Regions from separate parts of the Homo sapiens genome. Here regions 2 and 3 are each linked to region 1. Evidence: fine-mapped expression QTL. A gene starts in region 1. Each other region holds a variant in brackets. All regions are shown on one strand. Distances are from middle to middle.

Region 1 (10,353 bases):
TGGGAGCCTCAGCCCAGCGCCCTGCACCCATTCCCAGGGCCCTGGCAGATGTCCCCACCCTGTAGGCCACCTTAGAGGGGTCCCCAGCCAGCCCTCAGCAGCAGTGTGTGGGGCACAGCAGTGGGAAGGACCAGAGTCCTATTCTGACATCTGCCCAAGGTTCCTGCCTCTCTGGCCTTCAGTTTCCCAAAAGCAATCTGCGTGGAGGGCCTTTGCCTGGCTGAAGCCGGGGCTGGGGATGCCCATGGCTGGGGGCTGGGGAATGCCCATGGCAGTTGGCCCAGGAGCAGGTGGGCCGCAATGGCTGCTGCCCGAGGGTCCCATTTTGGCAGTGGGGGGTGGGGTAATGGGAAAAGCCTCACTGGACCAGACTGGACTCAGGGCACGCTGGTTGGGCCAGGTCTATGGGAACCGGTGGCTTGTCCTTCCCGGCACCTCCTCATCTCCCCTGCTGGCCTGAGGCTGTAGGGTGAGATGAGGGCCCCGAGAGACCTGCCTAACTGAGCAGCTGCCCTCCAGGTGCTCCTGGATCTCCACAGCAGAGGCCACAAACACCCACTGATGTCCTGAACAGTCACAACCTGAGGCGGGAGCCCCCCACCCGAGCCCTCTCTGCCTGCTCTCCAGGGGAAGGGTGACTTTCGTCTCCTCCTGTTTCTCTTTCCCAAACTTCCCGCCTCTGCCACAGCCTCTGGCCTCGGGCCTGGGACAGTCTTCTGTCCAGTATGGTGCTGCCTGCCCCGGGCTGTTTATCAGGGACTCTTATTCGGAGGGGCAGATGGGAGGCAGGGGGCAGACAGGGCTCCAGGAGCCAGAGAGCCGAGTAGGTGCGCTTGGCAGACTGGGTGATGCCCCAGGTGCAGGTCCACTGCCAACATGGGGCACCCCACAGCCCAGCACAGGGTGGGCAGTTGAGCAGAAGGCCCCTGGGGTGGGGGTGGGGGAGCAGTCTCACTGGGACCCTCCACCCAGGCCTCCTCTACCCACCAGGAACATTGTGGCCAGGCCCATTGACACACCCGAACCTGGTTCATACCCCACTCTCTCACCACACACCCGCCAGGCCAGGGTCTAACTATAACTGACTGAACACCCCGATACCCTCCACCAAACCCCACCCTCATGTCCTCTGCACGTCCTTGGCACTGCCCGGAACACACTCCCACCCCATGTGCCTGGCAAACTCCTCCCTGTCCTTCAAAACCCCCAGCCACCCTCTGAGGCAGCATGGACTCCCTCCCCCACCCCCCCGCACGTCTCTGTTTCCACCAAGCCAGGATGCAAGTATGGCCATTTCCACTGGCAAGGCCTCCCTGGGTGGGGGCTGCAGAGATCCTCCTGGGACCACCGAGGAATGACCTCCTGACTAGTGTGGGTTGCTGCATCCTCAGGGCCTGGCTCCCTGCCTCCACCTCCCAGAGGCACCCCAGGAGGCAGCTGCTCTTCTCCCTGGGTGCAGCACGGGGTAGTGCGGTGGGCCACAAGCCACATGAAGTAGCCTGTGGCACTGGGGAGGCTGGCACCCAGCTGGGCCTCCCCCGTTTCCCCCGTGGGCAAAACTACCAGCCCCACGGGAAACTTGTCAGGTCACCCAGCAGCCAAAGCCCTTCCTCAGAGCCCCTCTCTTCCCCCAGGATGCCCAGCCCCATAAATACAGGATTATCCACTATGTACAAAAACATTTTAATTGAAATACCTGTATAAAAAAATATGATCTCCAGACATCTCACTTTTGAACTGAAAGAACCCCCATCTGCGATGCCTGCACACACCGCATTCACACAAACACAGGTACTGAATAAATTAAACGCTCAGGCTCTGGCCCCACCCCAGCTTTCAGAGCCCACAAGCAGACTGTACAAAGTCAATAATTTAAAACCCAAACCCTGGGCACAGTGCCTGGAAGTGTCAGGGTCACCCACTCCCCTTAAGTTAGCCACTATACATGTTCATCTTCTGACAGGCGGGGCCGGGACAGACGCCAGGCACAGGAATCAGGGCCTGGGGTCCCTGGACCACAGCCACCCCCTCCCCTGCCTCCCCACTGTCCCCTGGGGCTTGGGAGAGGCAGACTGCTCAGAGGAAATAACCTCAACAAATAAATTAAACAATAAATAGCCCCGGTGGGCCGAGGGCACCTCCAGGGGGTCACACCATAAATAACAGAGTTGGCGGCGGGTACGGCTCGCGTGGGCGGGCGGGCGCGGAGGCCAGGACTTGCATTGTGTGTGCAGGACGTGCCCAGACGCACACCGCAGGACTGAGGGCGGGAGGTGGGCTTGGGACCCTGCGCCGGCGGAAAGAGCTCCGGGTGGGCAGGCAGATGGGAAGGCCGCCTCCGGACACAGCAGCACAGAGGGGCGTCTGGGGTTCAAGTATCCACCCAGGGCAGGCGGGACCTCGACCGGAGCGTCTTTGGACAGACAGAGCTTGAGAAAACCAAGTCCCGCGGGACCAGCGTTCAAAAGGCACTCAAAGCGAAGGTCACCAGGGGTCAGAGGTCACTGCTTCCGCAGGAGGAGACGGCCCACGCAGGAGAAAGTCAGGGTCTGGGGGCGTCCCAGGTCTGGCCAAGGCAGGTGGTCCCCTAGCTCCCAGTCAGGTGCAGCTCCTCACAAGCTCTCGCTGCTGGACGTGGTGCTGGCCACGTCATCAGGGTCGAGGGTGCACAGCCGCAGGTCACAGCTCTCCGGGACGCCCCCGTCAGCCCCCAGCATCCAGGGATGGGCCGCAATCTGATCCAGCGACGGCCGCTCTGAGGGCCGCAGGGACAGGCACCACCGGATCAGCTGCTGGCACTCTGTGCGGAGCGGAGAGGTCAGGGAGGGCCCAAGCAGGGCGAGGCCCCCACCCCCGCCTCGAGCCACCACGCACCTGGAGAGACCCTCCTCCGGAAGAGCAGGCGGCCTCGGAGGATCTCCTCGTCCTGCTCGAAGGGGATGTCCCCACACACCATATCGTAGAGAAGCACGCCCAGCGACCACACGGTGGCCGAGCGCCCGTGGTAGCGGTGGTAGCGGATCCACTCCGGGGGGCTGTACACTCGGGTGCCTAAGGGGACACAGGGCTTAGCACGCCCACCACAGAGGCAGAGCCGCTCAACAGACGGCGAGGTCCCTGCTGGTTAACTCCCTGGCCTCAGTAACAGGAAGCAGAGCCAGGCCTCAAAATCCTGCTCGTCATCACCCTGGAAAAACCCCGGCAGGCGATGGGGGGGCTGGGGGAGGGGCCGGCCGTCCCCCTCCGCCGGCCGCGGGGGAGGAGCAGGTCACATGAGTAAGAGCTCGGCTTTCACAACAAACAGATGCGCTGTGAGGCTACCTGGGTGGGGGGGGGACAGCGCGGGTCCCTTACCGCCCGGCGCGCCTGCCTGCGGGAACGGGGGGAGGGGAGAGAGGGAGGGAGGAGGGAGGGGCGGGCGGGGAGCCCCGGCTTCCCCAAGCTCCGCAATGCGGGGATTTCTGCCGCCGCGCCCCCGCGCTCCGCACGCACGCAGCTCCCGCCCCCACGCAGGGGAGGCCCCGCCACTCCAACCGCGCCGCGGGGGCCTCCAGGCTCCCGGCGCAGACCCAGCCCGGCTGCGCCCTGCGTCACGCACGGAGACTCCTCCGCTACCGCCCCCAGCCGGGGGTCTCTCGGGCCGGAAGGATGTCACGCGCCTCCCACACCGGGGCAAGAGGCCCCGTACCCCCCAACGCGATGGAGGAAGCAATATTGAGCGCGCCCCTAGCCCCCACCCAGCACGATCCCGCTCTTGATCCCTCGCTCAGCCCTCCCCAGGGTAGCGCGTGGGCCTCTGCTCCCCACGAGAGCAGACCCAGGGCGCGCGGCCGCCCAACAGTCATCAGCCCCTCCATGTGCCGCCCCTGCAGGCGTTAACCCGCCGGCAAGGCCCCCGGAACGTTCCCTGCCCCGCGCCCGCGCTCACCGTCGAAGTCGGTGTAGACCGTGTCCTTGAGCAGCGCACCCGAACCGAAGTCGATGAGCTTGAGCTCTCCGGAGCGCAGGTCCACAAGCAGATTTTCGTCCTTAATGTCGCGGTGCACGACCCCGCAGCTGTGGCAGTGGCGCACGGCGGCCAGCACCTGCGCGAAGAAGCGGCGCGCCAGCGGCTCGTCCAGGGCGCCGCGCTCCGTGATAAAGTCGAAGAGGTCCTGCGCCGGCTCGGGCCGCTCCAGCACCAGCAGGAAGCCGTCGGGCCGCTCGAACCAGTCCAGCAGGCGGATGACGCCGCGCGCGCCGCCCGCCGCGCCCACCTTGCGCAGCAGCACCACCTCCAGGGGCACGGTCGCGCCGCCCTGGGGGACACGGCGGTCAGCAAAAGCCCCGCGCCCGCCCCCCGCCGCCGCCGCCGCCCGTGCCCCAACTTACCAGGCTGCCCCACTCGGTCACCCGCTCCTTCACCACGTGCTTCACAGCCACCTGCGGAGACGCGGGGGTCAGGCCGGGCCAAGCGAGGCGCAAGGCGCGCGAGAAACCCGGGCCCGCCCGGCGGTCCGACTCACCGGGAGCCCGTCGGCGATGCGGCTACCCGCGTAGACCGTGCCGAAGCCGCCGCTACCCAGCACGGCGCCCACCTGGTACGCCTTCTCGAAGCTCTCCTTGTCCGCCTTGGCTGCAGGGAGGCGCGGGCGGGGTTGGTGCGGCCCGGGGCGCCCCCGGTCCCCGCCCTGGCCCCGGCCCCGGCCCCGCCGGCCCCGCGCGTACCTGGCTGCAGGATCTTCACCGGGAGGTGGTCCACGCCGCCGGGCCCGCAGAGGTGCGCCAGGGAGCCGAACTTGGAGAGCAGCATCGCGGGCGACGGCCTCCCCGGAGCCCCGAGCCCCAGGCGCCGAAGCCGCGGCCGATCCGGGCGAGCGGCGCGCCGGGGACACCGGCCGTCCGAGCCCGAGGCGGTCCGCGCGGCGCAGTGGGCCCGGAAGGCCCGCGGGGACCGCGTAGACGCGCAGCAGGCGGAGCGCCTCACCCGCCCCGGCCGCCTCGCCCGGGGGTTTTGGGCCGCGGCGCCGCGTATCCCTCCGCGGGGGCGGGGCGAATCGGGACCCCGCCCCCTTCCGCCCGGGGCCCGCGAGGCGGCGGCGGCCGGGCGCTAGCTGGGGAGACGGCGGGGCAGCTTGGCGCCTGTCTTCGGGCGGGCGAGGGCCGGGTGCGGCGGGCGCGGGGCCGCTCCGGGACTCGTTTTCGTAGCGCAGCCGCGGAGGCGCACGGCGTGTCGCGTCGGTCCGCTCTCCGCGCTCACGCTCTCACTCCGCGCAGGCGCAGTGCCCGCGCGGGTGGCGGCCGTGGCGCCTCGGGCAGAACGAGGAGGGACTGCACGAGCCAATGGAAGCCGGAGTTTTTAAAGAAATCCGGCGCCCCAGCCAATGGCGGGGCGAGCCGTTTCCTGGCTCCGCCCCCAGCAGTGCCTAGGAAGGTCACCCGCCGGCCCCGAGCAGGGTTCCTGGGGGTGTGGGAGTGCGGGAGGCGACCTGCGCTTGTCCCGCGGCCTCGAGGTGACACACGCCGCCAGTCTGCGTCCCCGGCTGTCTGCGCATCCCGTCGCGCACGTGGCCGGGCGCGCGGGGAGGTAGCGCCGGCTCCTCTGGAAGCCCTCGCAGCGGCAGCGCCCCCAGCCTCGCAGCCCCGGCGGGGGCCGAGAGCGCACCTGGCTGGAGATGCTTCCTCCTCACCCTGGGCTCTGACCTCACGCCCGCAGCCCGAGGGCCCTCCCTGGTACCTCTGCCCTGCTGGCCGGTGCCTGGAGTGGCCCCGCCCGACTCCTGCCGTCTGACACGGTCCTGGCTGCCCTCCGGGCTCTCCAGCAGCTGCTGTCCACCTCCACCAGGGAGCCCACCTTGATTGCTGCGACAGCCGCACTCAAAGGCTGAACAGCCGGGGTACACATTGCCCTGGTCTGGACTTCACCCTGTCGTGCCCCTTCCCTGCTCTCTGTACAGAAGTCTGACTCACCTGTGTGGTTTGGTGCAAACCCACAGATTGCCAACATTGGTCCAAAGTCACCGGCCTGAGAGCAGCTCAGGGTTCCAGGACGTGAGTGGCCACCCGCCAGCCCCAGGGCTAGTGGGTTGAGAGTTGGGGGCCAGAGGGCCCAGGGGCTGGTCCTCTTGGCACTGCCAGGCGTTCTCAGTGGCCCTCAGGGGTCTAAATATTGTGGCAGACATCCCCGGGCGGTCTGGTGTGACCGTCAGCGCGCACACACACTTGCCTCGGAGCTTCCAGCCTCCCCTAAGTCTGACCTCTCATCTCTATACAGTCACCATCGCTGTCCCTGCGCTGACCACTCACACACCACTCCCCTGTTCAGCTCTTCTGAGGCTGTGGCTCTCGGGACTGGCCCAGGCCCACCTGCCATCTGGGCGCCCTCTGGGGCTCGCTTCGTCGCCCGCTGCCTGGGCCCATGCCTGTGCTCCTGGGGGCTCCTCTCTTGCCTAGCTCATCTCTTCCTGTCCCTTGGGTCCTGAGGATCAAAGCCAACGCGACATTGTTTGTCCCCAGGCCCCTCCCCCTCCAGCCGCTGCTTCCCAGAGCTCTGTCCAGTTCTCTCCCGCAGTACGAGGGCAGGGTTGGGGCTGGTGGGTTAGCCTTCCCCCACCCACCACGCACCCAGCACAGGGCTCCCCCGAGATCAGATCCCTGGTAGGATGACACCCCAAGCCTTCCCCTCCAGCAGTATCCACACAGCACCTGCGAAGGAGGAGGGGCTGCTGCCCATGTGGGTCCTCCCGGGGACCTACCTGAGGGTCCAGTGGGGCTGCCCTCTTCTGTGCTGGACACGCAGCAGAGGTGGGCAGAGATGCTGGAGAGCACGGTAGGTCTAGGGGGTGACCACTACAGTTGAGTTCATGTCAGTCTGGAGGGGCGAGGGTCCTCAGCCTGACATGTCAGGCTAGTCTTCCTTGAGTCTGACATGTCAGGCTCCAGGCCAGTCTTCCCTGAGTCATCCTGGCCGTAGAAGACCAGGCTCTGGCGGGCAGGCACCCCACCCTGGCTCTCCCTAGGCCCCGGGTCTTGCTCTGAAACCCTCAAGTGTCCCTTAACTAAGATCCAGGAGGACTTGCTCCTTCAGAAAGCACGGTGTGCCTGTCCTCCACGGCCCTCCTCCCGCTCACTCCAGGTGTGCTGGAGATTCCTCCAGGCCTCCAGATGGGATTCCTGCCACACAGGCCTCGGTGAAAGCCTCCGGAGGGCTCCTGCGTGGGGGTCCAGCAGCCTGGCCCTGGAGTGGAGGGCAGGGCAGGGCCAGAGGCAGCCCTTTCCCTAAAGTGTGACATCTTTGTAACCACGTCTGTCCAGACACTGGTGTATGTTGTCGATTTACTGTTGTACGTGCTTGTGTGTGCAGCGAGGACCCTTGCACTGACGGTGAGCTCCGTGCGGGGTCAGCATGGTCCCCAGCCCTTCCCTCTCCCCCGGGACTGTTTGACATTGAGGCCTCTTTTAGACTGTGTCTGGCCCAGGCCACCACATCTGATCTAGTTGGAGTGCTGGGGTCCCCAGTAACGCCAGATAACCCTGCTCACCTTGTCGTGCCCCTCCCCTGCCATTGGGCACAGCCCAGCCTGTTCCTCAGCTTGGCAAACAGATATGGGTCATCCCAGTTGTGGAGCATCTGCGCTCTGCATACAGGGCAAGAAAAATCTGAGAGGCCTCAGGGCCTCTCACCCTCTGCCCTGGGCCACCCCTTTCCCACAGGTCCCATCAACACCCCACCCCCCGGCCAAGTCCCCAGCAGTGCAGGACACCAGCCCTGCCTGTTTTTTCCTGGTTCGTGGATGGCCCATCCAGTGGGCCCCATGGGCAGGCCCAGCCCATGGGCCAGAGCTGGGGCCGCTCCTGCAGATAGGAGGTGAGCCAGGAGGTGGGCGTGGCGGGGTCTTGGTGCGGGAGCCGCTCCACCTGGGTACTGACTGCAGAGGGCCCAGCCCAGCCCCTTCCTGTGTCCTCCCACCCCCCACCCCACCTGAAGCTCAGGCCGGCATGGCATGGGTGCCTCCTTCCCTTGGGCTATCCTGCTGAGAGGGGCAGCCTTGCTCCAGGGCCAGGGCCTCTGCCTGTCCTTGGAGCAGGTGTTTCCCAGGGCAGGGACAGGGGAGTGGAGCAGAGCTTGTCAGAGGGTCTGCACACCCCAGTCCCCAGCCCAGCCCCTGAGCCATCCCATCCCGACTGCTTGACCTGGAAACAGCCGCCCCTGCTCCGCAGTGGACACGGCGAGTCCCCCCAGGTACCCTGGCCTGCTGGAAGGAGGGTCACGCTCTTGCCATGGTGACCCAAGCCAGGCTGGCCTGCCTGGATTCGGGAGGATGAGGAGGTGGAATGGAAGGTGGCTGGGGCCACTTACAGTCTCCCACACACACATGCATGCTAACACTGCTCACACGCACCAATTCACAAACACTCACACATAGAATCACACTTACAGACACCTCCTCAAAGCTGGGGCATTGCAGAGGGGAGTGTTAACAGGGTTCATGCTCCACGGGCACCCCCATTCCTGCTCCCCAGGCTGTGTCCCCACTGTCCTGCCTCCCGCCGGCCCATCCCGCCCCTCTTCCCTCCTTCCCTGGGGATCCTGTCCACCCCCAGTCTCCAAGCCAATGACCAAGGCCTCCTTAATCAGCCTGTTTCCAGTTGCCCCGTGCCTATCCCACAGGGTCGCCCGGCCTTGTCCTGCCTGTATGTGATGCCCTTCCAACCCAGGCCATGCCTGAGGAGGGGGCGTCCCCTCACCTGCCCCCAAGCCCTTACCGAGGCCTATCCCATTCCCAAACCTCCCTCCTGCCGATCCACCTGCCCGCTCCCACCCTCATCCCAGGCCCCAGTGTGAGCCCCCTTGGCCACCATGGTCTTTTTCCCACTGTGAGCCCCTCACAGTCCTGCCTTGGACCCTTTGTGGCTCCCCTGGGCCACCAGGGTACAGGCCCTCCTCCCCAGCCCATGGGCCTGGCCCCCACCAGCACCTGCTGCCACCCAGAATCAATGTCCCAGTACGGCCGCCCCAGGCCCTGGGCTGGAGCTCTGCGTCATCTCCCCGCAGACCGGACTCCCCCAGCTGTTCCCAGCTTGGGAGGGGCACCTGCTGCACCTCGTCTTCCAGCCCACACAGGCTGCAGCGGCCAAGACTGGGTGCTCCCAGGGCAGTGGCGGGGGCAGGCGATGCCTGTTGTGGGGAGAGGCCCTTTCCCCTCTGGCCTCCACTCTCGGTCGTCGCAGCCTCTCACCCGCTGCAGATAGGAGCCAGCAGAGCTGTGCCAGGATTTTGCAACGTTTCACCAAAGGCATCCCAGGGTTGGGCCTGGGGTGGAGTGGGGCGCCTAGTCAGTGGGAGCTGGGGGTGTGGGCGACCTGCATGAACTCAGGCCCAGCCGCTTTGGCTGCCTCTTCCAGCCTCTGTCCCTGCCTGGAGGACACCAGTTTTACCCCTCAGCTGAGGCCTGGCCTGTGTTAGAGAGGCAGCTGTTCCCACCAGGTTACCCCCACCTGCTACCAGCACAGACCATTTATATTCCATAAGCCACCCGGGGCCTGGGCCCCAGTGAGCATGGCCGCCTGGCATCCGTCACTTGGACTCTGCAGAAAGAGTCCTGCACAAACATAGAAGATGCTGTGGGAGTGTCCCGTCCTGAACCCTGTCCTCAGTGGAGCAGACGCTGAGACCCAGCTGGAGGGGGGCTGCCTCTGTTGGTCGCCCGGGGGCTGCAGTGATGGTGGGAACTGTGGCTTCAGCGCAGCAGCCTCACTGGATCTGCCAACCTGGAGAGCTGTGGCCTTGCCACCACCCAGACCACGACTCAGCCTGAGCCGGAGCTGCGTGGCCTGTGTGTCCCAGGCCTGGGCCGGGGGCCAGGGCAGGCGTGCAGGGCCCCCTCACCTGGGACCTCTGACCTGTTGACCAGGGACAGGCCACCCTGGCCTTGGGCCTGGACCACAGCCCTGCCCACTTCATAGCTCTTGGCCTTTGGCCCTGCAGTGCCTTCCCTGGTGGCCCTTTGGGGCCGTCCTGGCACCTCGGCCTGGGTCCCTGCTCTTCCGCTGACCCAGCCCAGAGTCACAGACACATCCCCAGACTCTATCAGGCTCAGTCTCTGGAGAGGCACTGCGATTTCTGTGGAGGCTGTGCGGAGAATCTGACGACATTGTACCAAGCAGCACGTCCCACAGCACCCAGTGGGCGCCCGGTAGAAGAGCCTGTGGTTTTGGGCACAGACCCCGGGAGGAGGGCTCCTGGGATGAGGCGGCTGGGCAGTGCTCAGCGTGCCACATGGCAGTTCTGCCTTCTCCCTGCTGAAATCCTGCAGGCCAAGAGCCGCAGCTGGTCATGGGGGCCCCACCTCATTCTTCCTGTCCTGGCCTGGT
Region 2 (10,353 bases), 23 kb after region 1:
CTCAATCACTCGTTCACTCAATCACTCACTCACTCAATCACTCACTCACTCTGTCTCTCACACATTCATTCATTCATCATTTGATAAGTAGTTTTTCCTGAGAGCCCACTTGTGCCATGGCCCACAGTGGCGCCTGGATAAACAGTGGGCTCATTCATTCATTCACCATTAAATGAACCTGGGGAGCCCATGGATGTCAGCACTGCAGAAGGCTGGATGGGTGGACCCCTGGGTGAATGGACAGGTGGATGTGTGGACACAAGGGTTCCCTGACCTGAGACTCCAGCTGAGGTGTCCCCAAAGCAGCTGCTGCCCTGAGAGCAGCCCCGCAGCTGGGCGCCATGCCCTCTTCTTTCCTGGGACACAGGCACTCTGCCTTCCTCTCTGGTCCTGGCCACCGCGAGTGCTGACTCTTCAGAGCTGCTTCCACCCTGGCCAGCATGCAGGCTCCTTGGGGTCAGGAAGCATCTGGAGAGGTGTGGGGCCTGCTGGGATCATGGCCCACACTGCACTGAGCACCTGCCATAGGCCTGATGCAGTGTGGCTAATGGGTCCCCTTGGTGAGAGGCTGGGGTCACTGCCTTGTGTTAGGGGCCAGGCTGGCAGAGAACGGGCTGCAGGCCCTCAGCACGCCCATGGAGGAAGGCCATGGGCTGGACCCAGGGACCAGAATGTCGGGCCTGGAACTGGACGTGGGACCTAGCCATGGATGCAAGGCCTGCACGTGGATGTGGGACCCACACACCTTCGTGGTTCTGGGGCACATGGCAGCAGCAGATGCCAGGGAAGGGTCACCCTCTGCTCACAGGGCCGGGCCCTCCCCTTCCTCCAACTCCCAGTCCACCTGCCCCCTCACACCTGACCTTTGTGTCTGCCACAGAAAGGGTGTGATTTCCTGGGAGCCGCTCTGCGCAAAGGCAGGTCAGGGTGTGAACTGAGGCCCTGGCCCCCCCAGCCGTGTCCGCTCTTGGAATTGTCTACATCTCACCATTCACCCCGGCCTCCGAAAGTTCCATCAGCTCCACATTAAAACAGACCTGGAATCCAGCCAGGCCACTGCCTGTCCTCCCAACGGGCTGGGACTTTCACAGCCTGCTGCTCCCAGTCCCCACCTGTGCTCAGCAGCAGAGACCCTCTGAGCATCAGCCACAGCCTCTTGGTGCAGCCCCACCTGATGGGAGTGAACCCCAAGCCCTCACCGGGCCCAGAGGCCCTGGATTGGCCCCTGCCACGGCTCCTCCCAGCACCCTCTCCTTCTTCTGCTTGCACTGTCTGGGCCTTTGAACTGAGGCACGCCCGACCAGGGGTCTTGCTCCAGCTGTCCCCTCACACCTGTCCTCCTCCCCACCTGGCATCGTAGATCCACGTGGGCCTCCCTCACCTACACCAGGGCAGGGGTCTTCCGGGTCAGAAGATGGACTGCTGAAGCAGCCTTTTTTCTGGGGTGACACCCAAGGTTCTTGGTCTCACAGCCACGGAGATCAAGGATGAGGACACAAGAAGGGTGAGGTTAAAGCAGACATTTAATCAGCAAAAGAAAGAGAATAGGCTGGGCATGGTGGCTCAAGCCTATAATCCCAGCACTTTGGGAGGCTGAGGCGGGCAGATCACCTAAGGTTGGGAGTTCGAGACCAGCCTGACCAACACGAAGAAACCCCGTCTCTACTAAAAATACAAAATTAACTGGGTGTGGTGGCGCATGCCTGTAATCCCAGCTGCTCGTGAAGCTGAGGCAGGAGAATCACTTGAACCCGGGAGGTGGAGGTTGCGGTGAGCCAAGATTGTGCCATTGCACTCCAGCCTGGGCAACAAGAGCAAAACTCTGTTTCAAAAAAAAAAAAAGAAAGAAAGAAAGAAAGGAAAGAAAGAGAATAGGCTGGGTGTGGTGGCTCAAGCCATGTACATTTGACATACTTCCTAAGAAAGTGCTTTTTAAATGCAGGTTGTCCAGGCCAGGCGCGATGGCTCATGCCTGTAATCCCAGCACTTTCAGAGGCTGAGGCAGGCTGATCACCTGAGGTTGGGAGTTTGAGACCAGCCTGACCAATATGGTGAAACTCCATCTCTACTAAAAATACAAAAATTAGCCAGGCGTGGTGGTGCATGCCTGTAATCACAGCTACTCAGTAGGCTGAGGCAGGAGAATCGCTTGAACCTGGGAGATGGAGATTGCAGTGAGCTGAGATCACACCACTGCCCTCCAGCCTGGGTGACAGAGTGAGATTCCGCCTCAAAAAAAAAAAAAAAAAAGAAAAAGAAAGACAGAGAACAGCTCTCTGCTACAGGGAGGGGTCCCAGAAAAATGGGTTGCCCATCCGAGATGAAATGCAGAGATTTTTATAGATGAGCTAGTGGGGAGGCAGTGTCTGATCTACATAGGGCACGAAAAACTGGTTGGGACCGGGCGTGCCATCTACATAGTGTAGCACCCCAATCTTTTTTTTTTTTGAGACAGTTTCACTCTTGTTGCCGAGGCTGGAGTGCAATGACACGATCTCGGCTCACCGCAACCTCTGCCTCCCGGGTTCAAGCGATTCTCCTGCCTCAGCTTCCTGAGTAGCTGGGATGACAGGCACACGCCCCCACACCCAGCTAATTTTTGTATTTTTGGTAGAGACAGGGTTTCATCATGTTGGCCAGGCTGGTCTTGAACTTCTGACCTCAGGTAATCCACCCTTCTCGGCCTCACAAAGTGCTGGAATTACAGGCGTGAGCCACCGTGACCGGCTGGCACCCCAGTCTTTTATTATGCACGTGGGAAGCTACTCCGTGCCGCTCATTTTTTTCTTACTGTGCGTGTGTGCTAACTAAGAGGGACATGGAGCCCCAGGGTGGACGTTCCTGGCCCCAGGGAGCCCTTTCTGTCTGTGCAGCTGCCTCCATGTCCTGTGAAGCTTCCAGCCTGATCTGTTTGCCGCCTAATCTTCCAGGCTGCTCTTTGTTAAAAAAGAAGTGATTTCTTGGGCTGCTTTCTGCTTTTTTTGTTTTGTGTGGAGACAGAGTCTCTCTCTGTTGCCCAGGCTGAGAGTGCAGTGCTGCGATCTCGGCTCACGGCAACCTCCGCCTCCCAGGTTTAAGCGATTCTCCTGCCTCAGCCTCCCAAGTAGCTGGGATTACAGGCACCCGCCACTATGCCTGGCTAATTTTTGTATTTTTAGTAGAGACGTTTCACCATGTTGGCCAGGCTGGTCTGGAACTCCTGACCTCAGGTGATCCGCCCGCCTTGGCCTCCCAAAGTGCTGTGATTACAGCTGTGAGCCACCTCGCCCGGGCCTGCTTTTTGTTAGAAGGGAGGTTCTGCTGAGGACTCTTTTGCCCTCATTATCTACCTAAATAATTTCTTTCTATCTCCTGTATCACCACCACAGTGGGAGGAAGCTGCCGACTTGGGATGTGGAGGTGGGGGCAGAGGGTCCTCCAGCTGGCCCTAAACAGAGTCCTGCCCCAGGCCTGCCTGCTCCTGGCACCTCCTGGCCCTGCCCAGGACTGAGGTCACAGGCACTGTGCCAGCCCCCTCTGACCGGTGAGAGCCCAAACAGGGCACACAGGAACCCACACAGAATCACAGAAGCCCCCCACAGGGGCTGGGAGCAGTCCCCTGGGCACTGTCGGCCAGTGCAGCCCCGCCGGGGGGTGCAGCTGCTGGTGTCCTGGGGTGGTCTCCGTGCTCATGACGGTGCCTGCATCCGTGCTGGGGGGTGCTGGTGTGTGCACGTGTGTGCTGTGTGTGCACAGGTGAGTGTCCGCTGAGTGTGCACGTGTGTGCTGTGTGTGCACAGGTCAGAGTGTCCGTGGTGTGTGCACGTGTGTGCTGTGTGTGCACAGGTGAGTGTCCGCTGAGTGTACACACGTCTGGTGTTCATGCACGAGTGAGCCCATGCTGTCCCGGGTCAGTGACAGGCGAGCATCGCGTGGGCCATGGACTGTAAGTGGGTTTGGGTAGTAAGGACACAGTGACCCCTAACCCCAAAACCATCCCTGGCTCTTGGGTGGGGAGGGGAGAGTCTGGCACAGCTTCCCTTTGGCTGTTCCCGCCTCCCCGGTTCCTGGCCCGTGGCCCCTGCCCCATCCGCCTTCTCCATGTCTGGCACTGCCCTTCCCTATGTGGGGCACGGGTCCTCACTCCTTGGGTCTCAGCTCCCAGGCAGCCCTCCCAGGCCCTGCGAGGACCCTGTGGGTGTTTGTCCCTGTGTGACTGAGGCACCACATAGAGCAGGATGTGCTAAGGCTGTACGCCTGGGCCCCACGGTCAGACGGATAGACAGAAACGTGGATGGACCGACGGGCAGCTGGTGGCCAGCGCAGGCTGCCGAGAATTGGCGGAAGTGGGGCGGGTGGCCGGCGGGCGGCCTGGCAGATCCTGGAAATCCTCGCTTCCTGTTTTCCCAACAAAGGGCCTCTGTCCCCCCAGGAAGGCCACTGGCTGGCGGCAGTGGACGGACATTCCTTTTCCGTAAACAGGATTGTTTTCCTTTTCTCCTCTGGACACAATAACAGCAGCCCCCATGCCCCCCATCCTGTCTCCTGTCACCACTAGCCATGGGGCGTGGACAGTGTGGACGGGTAGGGGGTCCACAGAGCAGGCTTTCCTGGACCAGGTGCCCATTCTGTCACCCTGGGAGTGGGAGTCACAGTGGGGGCCATAGCCTAGTTGACGGCAATGAGGCCTCCAGGGCAAGGAGTGGGAATTCAGTGACGTCTGCCCCACAGGGCAGGTGGGAGGCTGGACCAGCCTTGGGCTAAGGAGACCCTGTGAGCCTCATGGCCCGAGGCAGCAGTGCTTGGGGCAGAGGCCAGGCTTAGGTCTCTGCAGGGGCTGGGCCTCCCTCCAGGTGGACCTCCCCCCGCCCCAGGCTGGCTTTGGGTGAATGCATCTGACTTCCAGAAGCCCCAGAGCAAGACCCTAGAGTAGCTAGAAGCCCCAAGGGGACCCTGGGCGTGGCGGGAGGGGGCAAGGGAAAAGCCTCCAGAGGGTTCAGGGCCCTCCCCTGCCACAGGAGACCCAGTGAGGGCTGCAGGGACAGCCTGGATCTGTGCAGTGCAGATGGCGTGGAGGGGCAGAAGTGGCACGGTTCCCGCGTGCACAGCTCTGAGTGAGCGCAAGTGTGGCTGCTGTGCACACCCAGGCAGCGGGTGCCTGAATGGGCCTGTGTGAGGGGCTGGGACTATTTATAGCCGCTCCTAGCCCAGAGGAGCTATTAATAGCCAGGGTTGAGGGGGACGGACAATGTCTCCTGCTGGCCGCTGCCTGCGGGTGGGGTGGGGGTGGGTGCCATTCTGTGCCCGGAGACACCCGGGGCTGGTACCCCAGCCCCCACCCAGGCTTCGGCACAAGGGCCACTGTTATCTGGTCAGCAGCTGAGCCAGGGGTCTGCATTCACCTGGGACAGCAGGCTGGGGGTGCACCAGGCTACAGCCCCCACCCTGCTCTCCCCGGAGGCCGTTCTGCAGCCACACTGACCCTGAGGAGGATGGGATGGTGGGCACGTGAGCTGGCAGCAGCAGGGCACCCCGGATGGAAAGGGATGCTGAGACCAGGACCCCCATATCTGGTTCTCAGATTCCAGCATGGGGAAGGGGTAAGGAAGTGCTGTGGGGACCGCAGAGCCAGAAGTGGATTTG[A/C]GAGAGGCCGGCCCTGCAGGCCCCCCAACCTGCCTCTGGCAGTATAACCAGGTGTCCCTGAAGTAAACAGGTGAACTGAGGCCAAGTCAGATGGGCCTTGGAGCCACTGGAGGGGTGTGGATGGAGGGCTGTGGGTGGAGGAGAAGGGCCCTGCCAGAATTCAGGCTGGTGGGGGCAACAGGCAGCCTCATAGCCCGCTGTCCTGGCTGAGGCTCATTCCCTGTGATCATTTTTGAGAAAAAAAAAAAAAAAAAAAGGGGGGAGGGCGCCTAGCTTGTAAAAAGACCAGATCCCGACCCCACGAAGGGTGAAGTGTGACCTGGGTGGGGCGGGGGGCACCCCTCCAAGCCTTGGCTGCACCCGGCTCCCTGTGCCACACGCGTCCCCAGCATCAAGAGGCGCACCCCCCACCTCTCCCTAAGCCCAGCCAGGCTGCAGAGAAAACAGGAAAGCTCGGAGGCCCAGCCAGGCGCCCTGTGGGCGGGCCTGGGGGAGCTGGGGACGCAGGTTCTGGCTTCCACCCCGGGGGGGCGGGGGGTGTGCGGCGGCGGCGGTGGCGCTCGTGCATCTCATTCTGCGCCTGCTCCCGCGGGGGCTCCTTTCCTTCGGGGAGCCCCCGCCCCCGGGGCCGTGACTAAGCGGAGTCACCTGCCGCCAAGGGCTTTCCAAGAAGGTCAAGGCCAACCGCGCTCCGGCCCACGCCCCAGAGCTCGGGCCGGGCCCTCACAGCCATCGTCCTGCTCATCGTCATTGCTCCCGCAGGGGGTTCCCAGCGACGAGGAGCGCGGGGCCGGGGCGGCGGGGGAGGAGCGCGGGCGGGTCCCTATGGGGCTGGGCACGGGCTGCAGGTCCCCTCCCATGCTCAGCCCAGGCCCCACACCCTCCACCCCTGCTCCTCCCGGACCTCCACCCTCCCCTCCGTCCCTGCTCCTCCCGGACCCCCACCCTCCCCTCCGTCCCTGCTCCTCCCGGACCCCCACCCTCCCCTCCGCCCCCACCCCTGCTCACCCCAGGCCCCACACCCCGCACCCCTCCTTCTCCCAGACCCCCAGGCTCCCCTCCGCCCCTACCCCTGCTCCTCCTGGACCCCCCACACCCTCCCCTCCGCCCCAACCCCTGCTCATCCTGAACCCCCCACCCTCCCCTTTGCCCCACCCCTGCTCCTCCCACATCCCCACCCTCCCCTCCGCCTCCACTCCTGCTCCTCCCGGACCCCCACCCTCCCCTCCGTCCCCGCCCCTGCTCCTCCCGGACCCCCATCCTCCCCTCCGCCCCCACCCTGCTCCTCCCCGCGCCCCCACTCCCCGCCCCCACCCTCCGTCCCCAACACCTGCTCCTTCCCAGACCCTCATCCCCCTGCCCCAGTCTCGCTCTTCAGCGCACCCCCGGCACCTCCATTGCGTCCCCTCCCCCCACCTCCTCGTAGCGCCCCCATCTGCTCCCCGCCCCCGCCCGCCGGGGAAAGCCCAGCTGACGCTTCCGGCACCGCCCCCTTCCCGGCAGGGCCGCTCCCCGCCCTTCCCGCCCGCGGGAGCAACACCGCCCCCCGCGCCCCACCCCGCGCCCCGCCGCCCGCCCGGGTCCCCCAAGCCCGCTCTGCGCAGGGCGGGGTCCTTCCTCTGCAAAGGGCGGACCGAAGACCCGGGCGCCGGGCAGAGGCTGGAGGGGGGCCCGGGTGGGGTGAATCCCCAGTGGGTGCCCGCTCCCCACCCCCACCGCGACCACCAGCCCCCGCTCCGAGCAGGGACTCCGAGGCTTGCGGGTGACCCTCGAGTGGTGGCCGCCCTGTGGCCCAGAGAGCCCCGTCGCAGGCAGGTGGGTGAGCGCAGAAAGACGCTGGCCCTGGACTGCCGTTTGAGGGGTGAGGGGCCAGATACCCCTCCCTGGCTCTGGGGGGATCCTCCCAAAGGCCAGACCGGGGTAGGGGGGAGAGCGGACCCTGCTCAACGGCTGGGAACGGTCTCTCCAGAAGGATCCCCCGGGAGTGGGTGGAGGGGGTCTCTGGAGAGGTGGGTGCCCTGCAGCCTCCTCAGGCCAGGCCACTCCCGGCCCCTCACTGGTGCAGAGCAGCCGGCTTGGGGTTTGGGAAGACCGCAGCCCCAGGGAGGCGGGGAGGGGCGCTGGGCCTGGAGGGGGAGTGTGTGGCCTGAGAGCCGGTGGCCCCCACCAGCCACATTACAGTAAGCCTTTCTGGGCCCCAGCACCGCCCCCCACTCCCCTGCAGGACCTGGGCCCTTCTGCCCCCCGACCCCCAGGGCCCACCTGGCACAGGCTCAGTCCACACCCGCGTGCTGGTCACGGGCATATGAGGAGGAGGGCAGGGCCACTGGGCCAGGGCCCTCCACCCTGAGTCACCCCACTGACGACCACCCTTCCCAGGTGGCAGGCAGAGTCCCCACCCCAGGCCTGCGGGGTCTGGGAGTCTGAAAAGGGACAGAGCCGGACCGGGGGGCTGAGGGAGCAGCAGGGGCAGGCTGAGGAGAGCACCCCACTGAAGGCCACACCCTTTGAGTCATCCTGTGGTGGCCAAAGGCCCAGCCCCCTCCTCACAGCTCAGCACGCTGAAGAAGTCTCAGGGTGCCTCACCTCACCCAGCCCCCAGGTCAGCTGAGGACATGGCTGAGGCGCCAAGACCGCCTGCCACTCTGGAGCCAGCCACAGACAGGCAGCGCCAGGGAGGTGTACAGGCAAAGGCACTCTGTCCAGCGGGCACCACTGGCGGTGGACGCGACGGGAAGGGGCCTGCACTCTTGGGGTGGGTGAGCCTGGGGTGAGAGTCCAGGGGGCACAACCTTGAGAACAGTGTCCTCGGGGGGCTGCTGGTGCCCGCCCCTGAAGCTCTGGAAAAACAACAGAAGGCTGCATGGAGAGGCCAGGAGAACACGCACAGACTCAGTGACCAGAGGGGCCACCAATAGGTGACCCCATCCCCGGGGGTCTGCTGTGCCCCGGCCTCGGTGCTGGCTGGGAAGAAACAGGATGTCTCCAAACCGTGCCTCCTCCGTGGGAGAGGCCGGCCCCCTGCCCCGGCTCCCCAGGACCTGCCCGAGACCCTCCTGGGATTACCCAGGACCTGCCCGAGACCCTCCTGGGATTAAGTTGCAGTGTATCCTGGTGGGGATGTGCTGGCCCAGTGACAAAGGGGCCACAGCCTGAAGGAGCCCGGGACCCGAAGCCGTGCCCAGCCAGATAAGCTGCATGTGGTGGACGGCGGAGAGCTGACGGGTTGTGGGCCCTTTTCTGAGGACTAGGACCCCAGGAGGCGGTGTCCTCTGCTGCTCTGTTTCACGGCCCAGAGGCTCCTGGAGTGTGGGACACACGTGAGGAGGGGTGAATGTCAGAACAGCCACCGCAGACAGGGGCTGAAAGTCATGTGGCACCACAGATCCCAGCTGTCCTCTGGAACTGAGAGCAGGGGACGGTCACAGCACTGGACTGGCTGACAGGGACGGGGGTGATGGCCAGGCAGCAGCATTTGACCATCAGTGGCTGTGAAGGCAGCTCTCTAATGAGTTGCAGGGCTGGAGCGGGCCCAGGGTCAGAGCTGCGTGGGGTTGTGGAGGTGGCTGATAGAACAGCATGTTCCTGGGAGAGGGACAGGCAGCCCACAAGAGACTGCTCAGCTTGTTGGAGCAAAATATATTAGGGTTGTGTGATGCGGAGGTCAAGGGTACTCGCTCCAATAAAAAGTCAGGGCCGGTCGTGGTGGCTCAAGCCTGTAATCCCAGCACTCTGCGAGGCCAAGGCAGGTGGATCACTTTGAGGTCGGGAGTTCAAGAGCAGCCTGCTCAACATAGTGAAACCCCATCTCTACTAAAAATACAACAGTTAGCTGGGCGTGGTGGCAGGTGCCTGTAATCTCAGCTACTCGGGAGGCTGAGGCAGGAGAATTGCTTAAACCTGGGAGACAGAGGTTGCAGTGACCTGAGATCACACCACCGCACTCTAGCCTGGGCAACACAGAGAGACTCTTTCTTGAAAATAGATAAATAAGGCCGGGCGTGGTGGCTCACGCCTGTAATCCCAGCACTTTAGGAAGCCGAGGTGGGCGGATCACGAGGTCAGGAGTTCAAGACCAGCCTGACCAATGTGGTGAAACCCCCATCTCTACTAAAAATACAAAAATTAGCCGGGCGTGGTGGTGCATGCCTGTAATCCCAGCTACTCGGGAGGCTGAGGCAGGAGAATCACTTGAATCCGGGAGGCAGAGGCTGCAGTGAGCCGAGATCGCGCCACTGCACTGTCAGCCTGGGCTACAGAGTGAGATTCTGTCTCAAAAATACATAAATAGGGCCGGGTGCTGTGTCTCACACCTGTAATCCCAGCACTTTGGGAGGCCGAGGCGGGTGGATCACGAGGTCAGGAGATCGAGACCATCCTGGCTAACACGGCGAGACCCCCGTCTCTACTAAAAATGCAAAAAATTAGCCGGGCGTGGTGGCAGGCGCCTGTAGTCCCAGCTACTCGGGAGGCTGAGGCAGGAGAGTAGTGTGAACCCGGGAGGTGGAGCTTGCAGTGAGCCGAGATCGCGCCACTGCACTCCAGCCTGGGTGACAGAGCCAGACTCCATCTCAAATAAATAAAAATAAATAAATAAATAAATAAATAAAAAGTCATGACGCTGCCCAGTTTCTAGACCTGAGTGGGTTTCTGACCCAGAGAAATCTCACTAAAGTGAAGGCTGAGTCCCTAAGAGGAAGATGTGCAACGCCAAGGCAAATCCACACCATG
Region 3 (10,353 bases), 96 kb after region 1:
GCAATGGTGGACTGGATAAGGAAAATGTGGTATATCCACACCATGGAATATTATACAGCCATAAAAAAGAACAAAATCATGTCCCTTGCAGCAACATGCATGCATCTGGAGACCATCATCCTAAGTGAACAAACACAGGAACAGAAAACCGGATACCACATGTTCTCACCTATCAGTGGGAGCTAAGCATGTGGTACACAGGGACATAAAGATGAGAACCACAGGCACTGGGACTGCGAGAGTGAGGAGTGAGGGAGGGAGGAAGGGAGGAGGGGACAAGACTGAAAAACAACCTATTGAGTACCATGCTCACGATCTGGGCGACGATCATTCTTATCCCAAACTCAGCATCACGCAATATACCATGTCGTGAACCTGCACATGTGCCTGATGAATCTAAAATCAAAGTTGAAATTCTTTTTAAAAACAAAACTTTTTAAAAAGTGAGTGGAGGACACAGATGAAATGGGAATGGCTGTGAACTGGTAATTCTGAAGCTGGGGATGCGTGCACAGGGTTTATTATGCTACCCTTTCCACTTTTACGTATATCAGATTATTTCCATGAAAGCTATTTTAAGAAAAAAACCAATGAGATACACTGCTGACTTTTTAAGAGAAACAATGTAAATCAGGAGACAGAGGAATGACATCTTCAAAGCTGTGAAAAATGAGAGCCAAACCAGAATTCAGTAAGCAGTACAAATATTCCCTGAGGAATAAACAGGAACTAAAAAACACCATCAGACAAACCAAACACAGAACGTGTCTCTAAGTGACCCACACTAAAGTCCACGCAAGAGTGTTCTCCAGTCAGAGATGAAATAATCTGGTCTGGAGGACGAGCGCTGCCAAAAAGGCCCGAGGTGGATAACCACCACGCGGGTACGAGGTAGGCAGCCGTGCACTCACTGTTACGGGTGCCTCTGCCTTTAGGCCCTTCCAGCGGAAGCACTAGAACCCATAAACACACACACCAACATGCATGTGTGTACGTGAATCAAAGCCACAACTTCACACTGACACCGCCAACTCTGCCCTGACCCTGAGATCACAAGACCGAGCATCCCCCTTTCCACAACCGTGATTTTTCTTTTTTTTTTTTTTTTGAGACAGTTTTGCTCTTGTTGCCCAGGCTGAAGTGCAATGGCATGATCTCGACTCACCCAACCTCCGCCTCCTGGGTTCAAGTGATTCTCCTGCCTCAGTCTCACAAGCAGCTCGGATTACAGGCATACACCATCACACCCAGCTAATTTTTTTTTTTTTTTTTGTATTTTTAGTAGAGACAGAGTTTCTCCATGTTGGTCAGGCTGGTCTCAAACTCCCAATCTCAGGTGATCCGCCTGCCTTGGCCTCCCAAAGTGCTGGGATTACAGGTGTGAGCCATTGCGCCCGGCCTGCATCCGTGACGTTTCAATCCACCTCTGGGAGGCTGGGCTCCCACCCTCCTGGCAGATTTCCTCATTTGCTCAACCCTACAACACATGCACGAAGTAGCTGCAGAATTACTAACCCAGGCCACCAAGAAAACAAGCCTTCTAGCTGGAGATCACAATTCATTTATAATTTTTATCTTTTTACTTGGAGGTTTATAATCACATCGTGTCCAAGAGTTTCTTGGGTCAGTTTTCATTTTTCTTTTTTGTTGGAAGAGACAGTCTCGCTCTGTTGCCCAGGCTAGAGTGCAGTGGCACAATCTTGGCTCACTGCAACCTCCGCCTCATGAGCTCAAGTAATCCTCCCACCTCAGCCTCCTCAGTAGCTGGGATGACAGGTGTGTGCCACCACCCAGTTAATTTTTTGCATTTTTTGTGGAGATGGGGTTTCACCATGTTGCCCAGGCTGGTGTCGAACTCCTGATCCTGGGTGATCCACCAGCCTCAGCCAGCTTCCTTCCTCAAGTGTAGTTATTTTATTCATTTGAAATATAGTAAGCTCATTTGTTTGCTTGTAACACTGCCTATATTTTATTTTTTAGTTTCCCCAAATCTCTCAATAAAAGGAAAACTAGAACAGTAAAACCACAATCCTCTGATGTTATCAACAACAACAAAAAAGAAGACTGACAAGGTCTTTCCGTTAACCAACAAATGTAAGTGGAAGGGACAAACCATGAATATGGGTAAGTGGGTCCCTGATTTAATGACGGTTCAACCTACGAACCTGCAACTTTACGATGGTGTGAAAGCCACTGGCATTCAGTACAAACTGTACTTTGAATTCTGAATGTTGATCTTTTCCTAGGCTAACAACATACGGTGTGACACTCTTACATGAGATATTCAACACTTTATGACAAAACAGGCTTTGTGTCAGGTGATTCTGCCCAACTGTGGGCTCATGTAAGTGTCTGAGCACATTTGAGGGGGGCTGGACTAAGCTATGATGCTCGGCACATCAGGTGAATTAAATGCATTTTCCACTGAAGATATTTTTAATTGATGATGGATGGGTGTATCAGGATGGAAGCCCCCTTGCAGTCAGTATTACAAGGCCTAGATGGTATTAGATCTGGCAGCTGGAAAAGAAAGATGTCATCAAGCGTGTGATACACCGAGCATCCCCAAGTAGCCAACAGGTATCACTGGACGGCCCACAGAACCAAGCTGCTGAGGTGGGTGACTTTCTGCACATCTGCAAAGCAGAGGAGGGTCAGGGTCCAAGGTCCGATCTGGGGCAAAACAAAACAGCTGACACTTCTTTCTGGGGCAAAAACTCCCATGAAGAGAAGCTGCTGGGCCTACCAGGCCACCCAGAACTAGACAGAAAGTCAGCGAGAACAGAGAAGACTTGAGCAATACCGTCAGCCAACTGACCCAGTGGATGCACCGCAGTGCCTCCCCAACCGCCGCTCCCACCGCCGCCTGGCACACGCTTCTTCAGGGGCCCAGGGAACCTCCCACAGTATAGACCACATGCTGGCCCATAACATACGCGTTGGGCATTTCAAAAGGACTGAAACTATACAAGTCCTCTAAACACAATGGAGTTAAATTATAAAGCAAAAGAAAGAAATCTGGGAAATAAGCAATTATTTGAAAACAAAATACAATTCTAAATAACTCACGGGTGAAAAACAAACCGTGAGGTAAACTGGAAAGTGTTTTCAACTGAACGACAATAAAAATACAACCCACCAAATGGATGAGATGCAGCTGAAGTGGTGGTTAGCAAGAAACTGAAAGCTCTACATACCTGTGTTAGAAAAGATGACCTCCAGTCAATAAAGTACTCACCTAAAAGAAAACACTAGAAAAAACAGCAAACCAAACCAATGCAAGCCAAGGAAGGCAGGTGACCTCCTGAAGGCGCAAGAGGTAAGAACGTGCATTTGCCGAGAGCCACCGTTCAAGAGCCGCCAGCATCTTGATTTAGCCCAGTGAGACCCATCTCAGATTTCAGATTCCTAATTTCCGTTTGTGTGAAGCCACTCGGTTTGTGGTAATTTGTTAAAGCAGCACTAGAAAACTAATATAATAGGCAACAGAAAAGAATTCTGTCACATCTCACAGAAGGGTATGAGAAAAACTAAAGAGCAGAAAAACATCACTGCAGATAACGAAATATGCTCACAGAAAAATGTGACCTCAGATTAAATGAAAACGGTAACTTCCTCTTGCAAAGAAACTAAAGAAATTAAGAAAATGATATAAAGAAACAACATAAATCAGGATAGAAAAATTCTGATGTGAGATTATAGGTCCCACAAAAACACTAAAAATAAAAGTAAAATATGACTTCAAGAATGAAGACCTAAAAAAGAAGAAACAGGAGAACAAACTCCACAGATGACAGCTTAAGATAAATGAAAGGGAAACACAATTTTTTTTAATGAAAAAGAAATGAGGGGATTAAAAAAGACTCAAGAGAAACGGACCAATTTAAAAGACACGTAAAGAAGATCCAACATATGTACAATCAGAACAGCCACCCCAGAAACAGGAGGGGACAGGGCAAGAGAACAGAATACTAAACACTTAAAAACCTTTCCTGAATTAGAAATTGTCAAGCCACATAGTGAAAGGGACTGAGAAAATCCATCCTCAACTAATAACACTAATTTATTTTCTAACAAAATTACTAGACTTAAATCCTTTGGGCTCTCAGGCAAAGTACAAAGTCACTTGGAAAGAAAAAACTGTCATGATTTTGACAGCAATGCTTTATCCTAGAAGACCATAGAATAACATAGTTAAGACATTCAAGGAAAAAAGTGAACTAGCCAGGCACAGTGGCCCACGCGTATAATCAGCATCGGGAGGTGGAGGCGGGAGGGCTGCTTGAAGCTGGGAGTTTGAGACCAGCCTGGGCAATATAGTGAGACCCCCAGCTCTACAAAAAATTAAAGGGAAAAAAAAAAAAAAGAAAATGTGAACCAAGGATTTTATACTAAGCCAAACTGACCTTCGAGCACAATGAATGCAGAAAAACTACTATCAAGATGCAGGAAGTCAAGACATCTTGTTCCATGAGTCCTTCCTGAGAGATCTACCGGAGAGCAAACCTCAACCAAAACACAACAGAAACATGAGGACCCAATGTGAGCATTTATTTTTATTTTTGTCCACTCTGTCGCCCAGACTGGAGTGCAGTGGTGTGATCTCTGCTCACTGCACCCTCTGCCTCCCGGGTTTAAGCCATTCTCCTGCCTCAGCCTCCTGAGTAGCTGGGATTACAGGTGCCTGCCACCACACCTGTATTTTAATAGAGACGGGTTATTATTTTTTTTTTTTTGTATTTTAATAGAGACGGGGTTTCACCATGTTGGCCAGGCGGGTCTCGAACTCCTGAACTCAGGAGTT[C/T]CGCCCGCCTTAGCCCCCGAAGTGCTGGGATTAGAGGCGTGAGCCACTGCGCCCGGCCCCCGTGTAAGCATTTAACACACACAGTCACGTGCTGCACAGCAACACCTCACTCGGCAAAGAGCAGCGCACCCCACAGTGGCTACATAAGATAACGACACCATCTGTTTACTGTGCCTTTTCTGTTTGGACACACAAATACTTGCCACGGTGTTACAAATGCCTACAGGCTTCAGTGTAGTAACTGCTGTGCAGAGTTGCAGCCTCGGAGTGACAGGTTATACCATCTGGGTTTGTGTAGGTGCACTCTATGAGGTTCACACAACGACAACATCGCTGAGTAACGCATTTCTCAGAACACACCCCTGCCCTTAGTGAGACCCGGGGCTGCCGTCACTTGCAGAGCTAGGACTGAATAAGGGTTTGCAGGGGAGAAACACAGCACAATAGCTGGACTCCGTGGTTTCTGACTTCACGGGGGGGGGGGGGGGCTTGCTGGGATAGAACCCCATGGTCAATCAAGGAGCATCTGAACTTCATCGATGGTTTGACTCGCAATCTTTCAGCTCTACGACGGTTTAATCAGGGCTTTTTTTTTTTTTTTTTTTGGAGACAGGGTCTCACTCTGGCGCTCAGGCTGGAGTGCAGTACACAATCTCAGCTCACTGTAGCCTCAAACTCCTGGGCCCAAGCAATCCTCCCGCCTCAGCCTCCTGAGTAGCTGGAACTACACCTGAGTGTCACCACACCTGGCTAATATTTTAAAACATTTTTTGTAGAGAGGGGGTCTCACTAGGTTGCTGAGGCTGGTCTCAAACTCCCAGGCTCAAGTGATCCTCCCACCTCAACCTCCCAAAGTGCTGGGATTATAGGCGTAAGCCACCATGCCCAGGCTCCAATCAGGTATTAAGTGCATTTTCGACTTTGATGGGTTTATCGGACGTGGCCGTGTCCTGAGTTGCGAAGCATCTGTAGTACGTAATGGCTACACACTCTGTAGTTGAGACCCTGCATAACTACACAGAATGGGAAGACTTAGGCAAAAAATATCTTCACTGTTTTCAGTAATGATATAGGTGGCAGTTGTACTGCCATTGTTATTTTGAGATTGTGATGTTTGTAGCAAGAGATAAAACAGATGAGACATTATGCGATATTCCAATTCTCTCATCTCCACTGTCCTTGAGACCAGCACTCTCAGTGGAAAAAGAGGACGGAGACGTAAGATTAAAGCACACCCATGTGAACGCCCTGCCGTCAGAAAGCAGATCACACACTCCAGCAGAGGCCTAGAACCAGCGGCCAACCCAACAGCAGTGAGCACCTGTCACATGCAGACTGTGGTTTTGAAACTTCCAAGCCCTTAAAAGAAACCAGAGCTGAAGAAATGGCTTATTTCAGGTCTGGAGCCGGAAAAATACAAGATGAGCACAGAACATATCAGACAGCCAGAAACCTCTGAGAGAGTTCAGGAATGATGTCAAAAGGATCCAGGAGCCAGCTTGTAGGGGCTCTCACTGTCCAAAGAGGACAGAATTTAACATCCCAAATATGTTTAAATTCATTAGTTCACCAATACCAACATCAAATCCCTAACTGGTCGCCTCTGGAGGCTGATAGGAAAATGATTCATCATTGTGAAAACTGATGAATTTAAAAAAAGAATCAGGCATTTATCTTCAGTTTTCTCCATGAACTATAACACCAGAGAGTGGATAAGAAGAGGTTTATCTTTAATAGTTCATCTACTACATAAAGAAGCAATAACTCAGCCAGAACATCACACTTTTTTTTTTTTTTTTTGAGACGGAGTCTCGCTCTGTCCCCAGGCTGGAGTGCGGTGGCGCGATCTCAGCTCACCGCAACCTCCGCCTCCCCGGTTCAAGCAATTCTCCTGCCTCAGCCTCCTGAGCAGCTGGGATTACAGGCACTCGCCACCACGCCCAGCTAATTTTTGTATTTTTAGTAGAGACGTGGTTTCACCATGTTGGCCAGGATGGTATCAATCTCTTGACCTCGTGATCCGCCTGCCTCGGCCTCCCAAAGTGCTGGGATTACAGGCGTGAGCCACCACACCCGGCCTACAAAAAAATTTTTAAAACTTAGCTGGGTGTGGTGATGCGTGCCTGTGGTCCCAGTTATTAGGGAGGCTGAGGTGGGAAAATCACTTGAGCCCGGGAGCACCACTGCACTCCATCCTGGGCCACAAAGCAAGACCCTGCCTCAAAACCAACCAACCAACCAACCAACCAAACACAATCTACAAGAAACCAAAGGATAGAGGAACACACTGGGCCTCTCCAGAAGAATGCAGCCAGCAAAATCTAGACCGTGAGATGCACGAGTCCAACCACCAAGTTACCTCAGAAAATACTTCCACGGGAGGTGGGGTGGATAATGTAACCTGTAGATTCAGACTGAAAGGCTGGCCGGGTGCGGTGGCTCACACCTGTAATCCCAGCATTTTGGGAGGCTGAGGCAGGTGGATCACCTAAGGTCAGGAGTTCGAGACCAGCCTGACTAACAGGGTGAAACCCTGTCTCTACTAAAACTACAAAAATTAGCCAGGCGTGGTGGTGGGCACCTGTAATCCCAGTTACTCAGGAAACTGAGGCAGGAGAATTGCTTGAACCCAAGAGGCAGAGGTTGCAGTGAGCCGAGATCACGACACTGCACTCCAGCCTGGGCGACAGAGCAAGACTTAAGTCTAAAAAAAAAAAAAAAAAAAAAAAAAAGGAAAAACTTAACTAATATTTAGAGGTACTCAGTTCAGTCAAAACAACAAAGAATAAGGAAGTAGCTGCTGTAACAGTAAGATTGAGGCAGCCTCTGCTGGGAGGGGCTGGGGCGGCACGCACAGGGGCTCTGGAAGCTGGCAAGCACCTCTTGACCCAAGCACCAGTTACAACTGTGTCCATCTTATCATATGACTCATTACGCTAGACACTGATTTTATTCAGTTTCTGTATCTGTGCCACACTTTAAAATAAAAAAGGTTTAAAAACACACTTATAAAGCTACACTAGGCTGGGCGCAGTGGCTTACGCCCGTAGTCCCAGCTACTTGCAGGCCACGGTGAGAGACTTGAGCACAGGAGATCAATTCCAGTCTCAGCAAAAAAGTAAGGCCTCCGCCGCACAAAAAATAAGAAAGACAGAGAAACCACCTTCCAAGCGACTTTGCGGCAGAAGCGTTGGGGCCGCTCCGTATAGGTTCCACGCACAGGGCCAACCGCCCTCGGGGACTTACTAACAAAATGAGCCACTTGCATTCAATGATCTCAACTGCTCCGTGCTACATCCAATTCAGTAAAGCACAGTTTTTTCATTTTTCACATTCAGATTGAAGCAAATTAAATGAAAACCCGTTCAAGATACCCCTTCTCACCCTACCATCCTGGCAAAAATCCAAATGCTTAGTAATGCCCTCTGTTGGTCAGGCCCTCTCCCACAGTGCTGACAGGGTGCAGGCCTGTGCGGGGGAACTTGGAAGCACTCACCAAAATTACATGTATCCTCCCACCCAGCAACCACACGCTACGAACAGACCTGAAGACAGTCCTCACCAGAAACACAAAAAATGCAACACACGGCAACGTCAGTCACAGCGGCATCCCACGGCAAAGGATCAGAGCCCGTCAATAGGACCCACACATTCATACATGTGCTGAGCAGAAAAACCAGACACGCAGGGGCCAGCCACGGCAGCTCACGCCTGTAATCCCAGCACTTTGGGAGGCCAAGGCAGGTAAATCGTTTGAGCCCAAGAGTTCAAGACCAGCCTGGGTAACATAGTGAGACTCCCATCTCTACAAAAAATTTGAAAAAAATCAGCTGGCATGGTGGCATGCGCCTGTAGTCCCAGCTACTCAGGAGGGTACAGTGAGAAAATCACTTGAGCCCGTGAGGTCGAGGCTGCGGTAAGCCAAGATCAGGCCACTGCACTCCAGCCTGGGCAACAGAGCCAGACGCTATCTCAAAACAAACAGGTCAGGTGTGGTGGCTCACATCTGTAATCCCACCACTTTGAGAGACTGAGGCAGGCAGATCATTTGCAGCCAAGAGTTTGAGGCCAGCCTGGCCAACACAGTGAAACCCCATCTCTACTAAAAATATAAAAATTAGCTGGGCGTGGTGGCGGGTGCCTGTAGTCCCAGCTACTCAGGAGGCTGAGGCACAAGAATCACTTGAATCCAGAGCGAGACTCCATCTCATAACAAACAAACAAGAAAAACCAGACACACACAGTGTCAACAGCCCATGCTAACTTTTGTGAAAGACAGGAGGGGAAATGAGTTGTGGGTGTGTTTTGCTTACTTTTACAGGACGTAGCAGAAGTAAAAAGCGTTGCCTAGGCCGGGCATGGTGGCTCATGCCCATTATCCCAGCACTTTGGGAGGCCGAGGTGGGTGGAATGCCTGAGCTCAGATCGAGACCAGCCTGGGCAACATAGTGAAACCCCATCTCTACTAAAGTACAAAAAATTAGCTGGGCGTGGTGGTGGGCGCCTGTAGTCCCAGCTACTCGGGAGGCTGAGGCAGGAGAATTGCTTGAACCCGGAAGGCCGAGGATGCAGTGAGCCAAGATCGAGCCACTGCACTCCAGCCTGGGCAACAGAGCAAGACTCTGTCTCAAAAAAAAAAAAAAAAAGGTTGCTTAGAAGAGTGGTGGGGATAAGAAAGGTAGCTTTTATGTAGTTCTGACCTTTATAACAGGTAATTATTTTGTACATAAAATTTGTAAAAAATCCTAAATCTAAAAATGATCTGAAACAAATGGGCAACATAACCAGAGAAAATAATATTTGTCTTATTTCTTTCTTGGGAAAAATAAATAAAATAAAAAATAAAACAAGAGTATTTGTCAAGGAACTTTAAAATACAGCACTTTATTCATCCAAAGTGGAAGATAACTAAGGACAAAAAGAACTCAACAAAAACCTGCAAAGTTAACTAAGCAGTTTTCTTACAGGAGTGGTATTGTAATTCTACAACCTACTGTATGCACATTTTAGCACAAAACAAGGCCAATGATATTATTAAGATTTTTCAGAATAACATATAATTTAAGAATCAAAGAAATTAAGTAAAACTATATATATGTATTTTTTGTTTTGTTTTGTTTTGTTTTTGATACAGGGTCTCACTCTGTCGCCCAGGCAGCAGTGCAGTGACGTCATTGCAGCTTACCACAGCCTCAACCTCCCAGGCTCAAGTGATCCTCCCACCTCAGCCTCCTGAGTAGCTGGAACTCCAGGCACATACCATCATGCCCGGCTGATTTCTGTATGTTTTTGTAAAGATGGGGTTCTGCCATGCTGCCTAGACTGGTCTGGAACTCCTGAGCTCAAGTGATCCTCCCACCTCAGCCTCCTGAGTAGCTGGAACTCCAGGCGCATACCATCATGCCCGGCTGATTTCTGTATGTTTTTGTAAAGATGGGGTTCTGCCATGCTGCCTAGACTGGTCTGGAACTCCTGAGCTCAAGTGATCCTCCCATCTCAGCCTCCTGAGTAGCTGGAACTCCAGGCACATACCATCATGCCCAGCTGAT

Evidence for each region.
Region 2: its variant is fine-mapped to the expression of PIM3 in whole blood (TOPMed, PIP above 0.99).
Region 3: its variant is fine-mapped to the expression of PIM3 in whole blood (INTERVAL, PIP above 0.99).

The regions. Positions count from the first base shown.
Region 1 is chr22:49,955,387-49,965,739 of GRCh38, reverse strand. It overlaps PIM3 (Pim-3 proto-oncogene, serine/threonine kinase), which reads right to left and starts at 4,968. Exons shown (of 6, transcript NM_001001852.4): 1 at 4,708-4,968; 2 at 4,506-4,615; 3 at 4,372-4,422; 4 at 3,929-4,298; 5 at 2,875-3,051; 6 at 1,668-2,800. The coding sequence starts at 4,792. The coding sequence ends at 2,613. MIR6821 (microRNA 6821) reads right to left here and starts at 2,874; the gene lies at 2,801-2,874. RefSeq lists an enhancer at 32-532 and silencers at 3,106-3,625, 3,756-3,805, 4,446-4,495, 4,636-4,785, 4,836-5,475 and 2 more.
Region 2 is chr22:49,932,168-49,942,520 of GRCh38, reverse strand. No RefSeq gene overlaps it. Among named protein-coding and RNA genes, the nearest start is that of CRELD2, 19 kb to the right of the region's middle. RefSeq lists silencers at 6,030-6,569, 6,346-6,640, 7,129-7,518, 7,629-7,848 and an enhancer at 5,779-6,618. The variant A/C (reference allele first, on the strand shown) is at 5,623.
Region 3 is chr22:49,859,877-49,870,229 of GRCh38, reverse strand. All of the region lies in intron 1 of ZBED4 (zinc finger BED-type containing 4), which reads right to left. It also overlaps a transcript of ALG12 not described here. Among named protein-coding and RNA genes, the nearest start is that of ZBED4, 11 kb to the right of the region's middle. The variant C/T (reference allele first, on the strand shown) is at 4,805.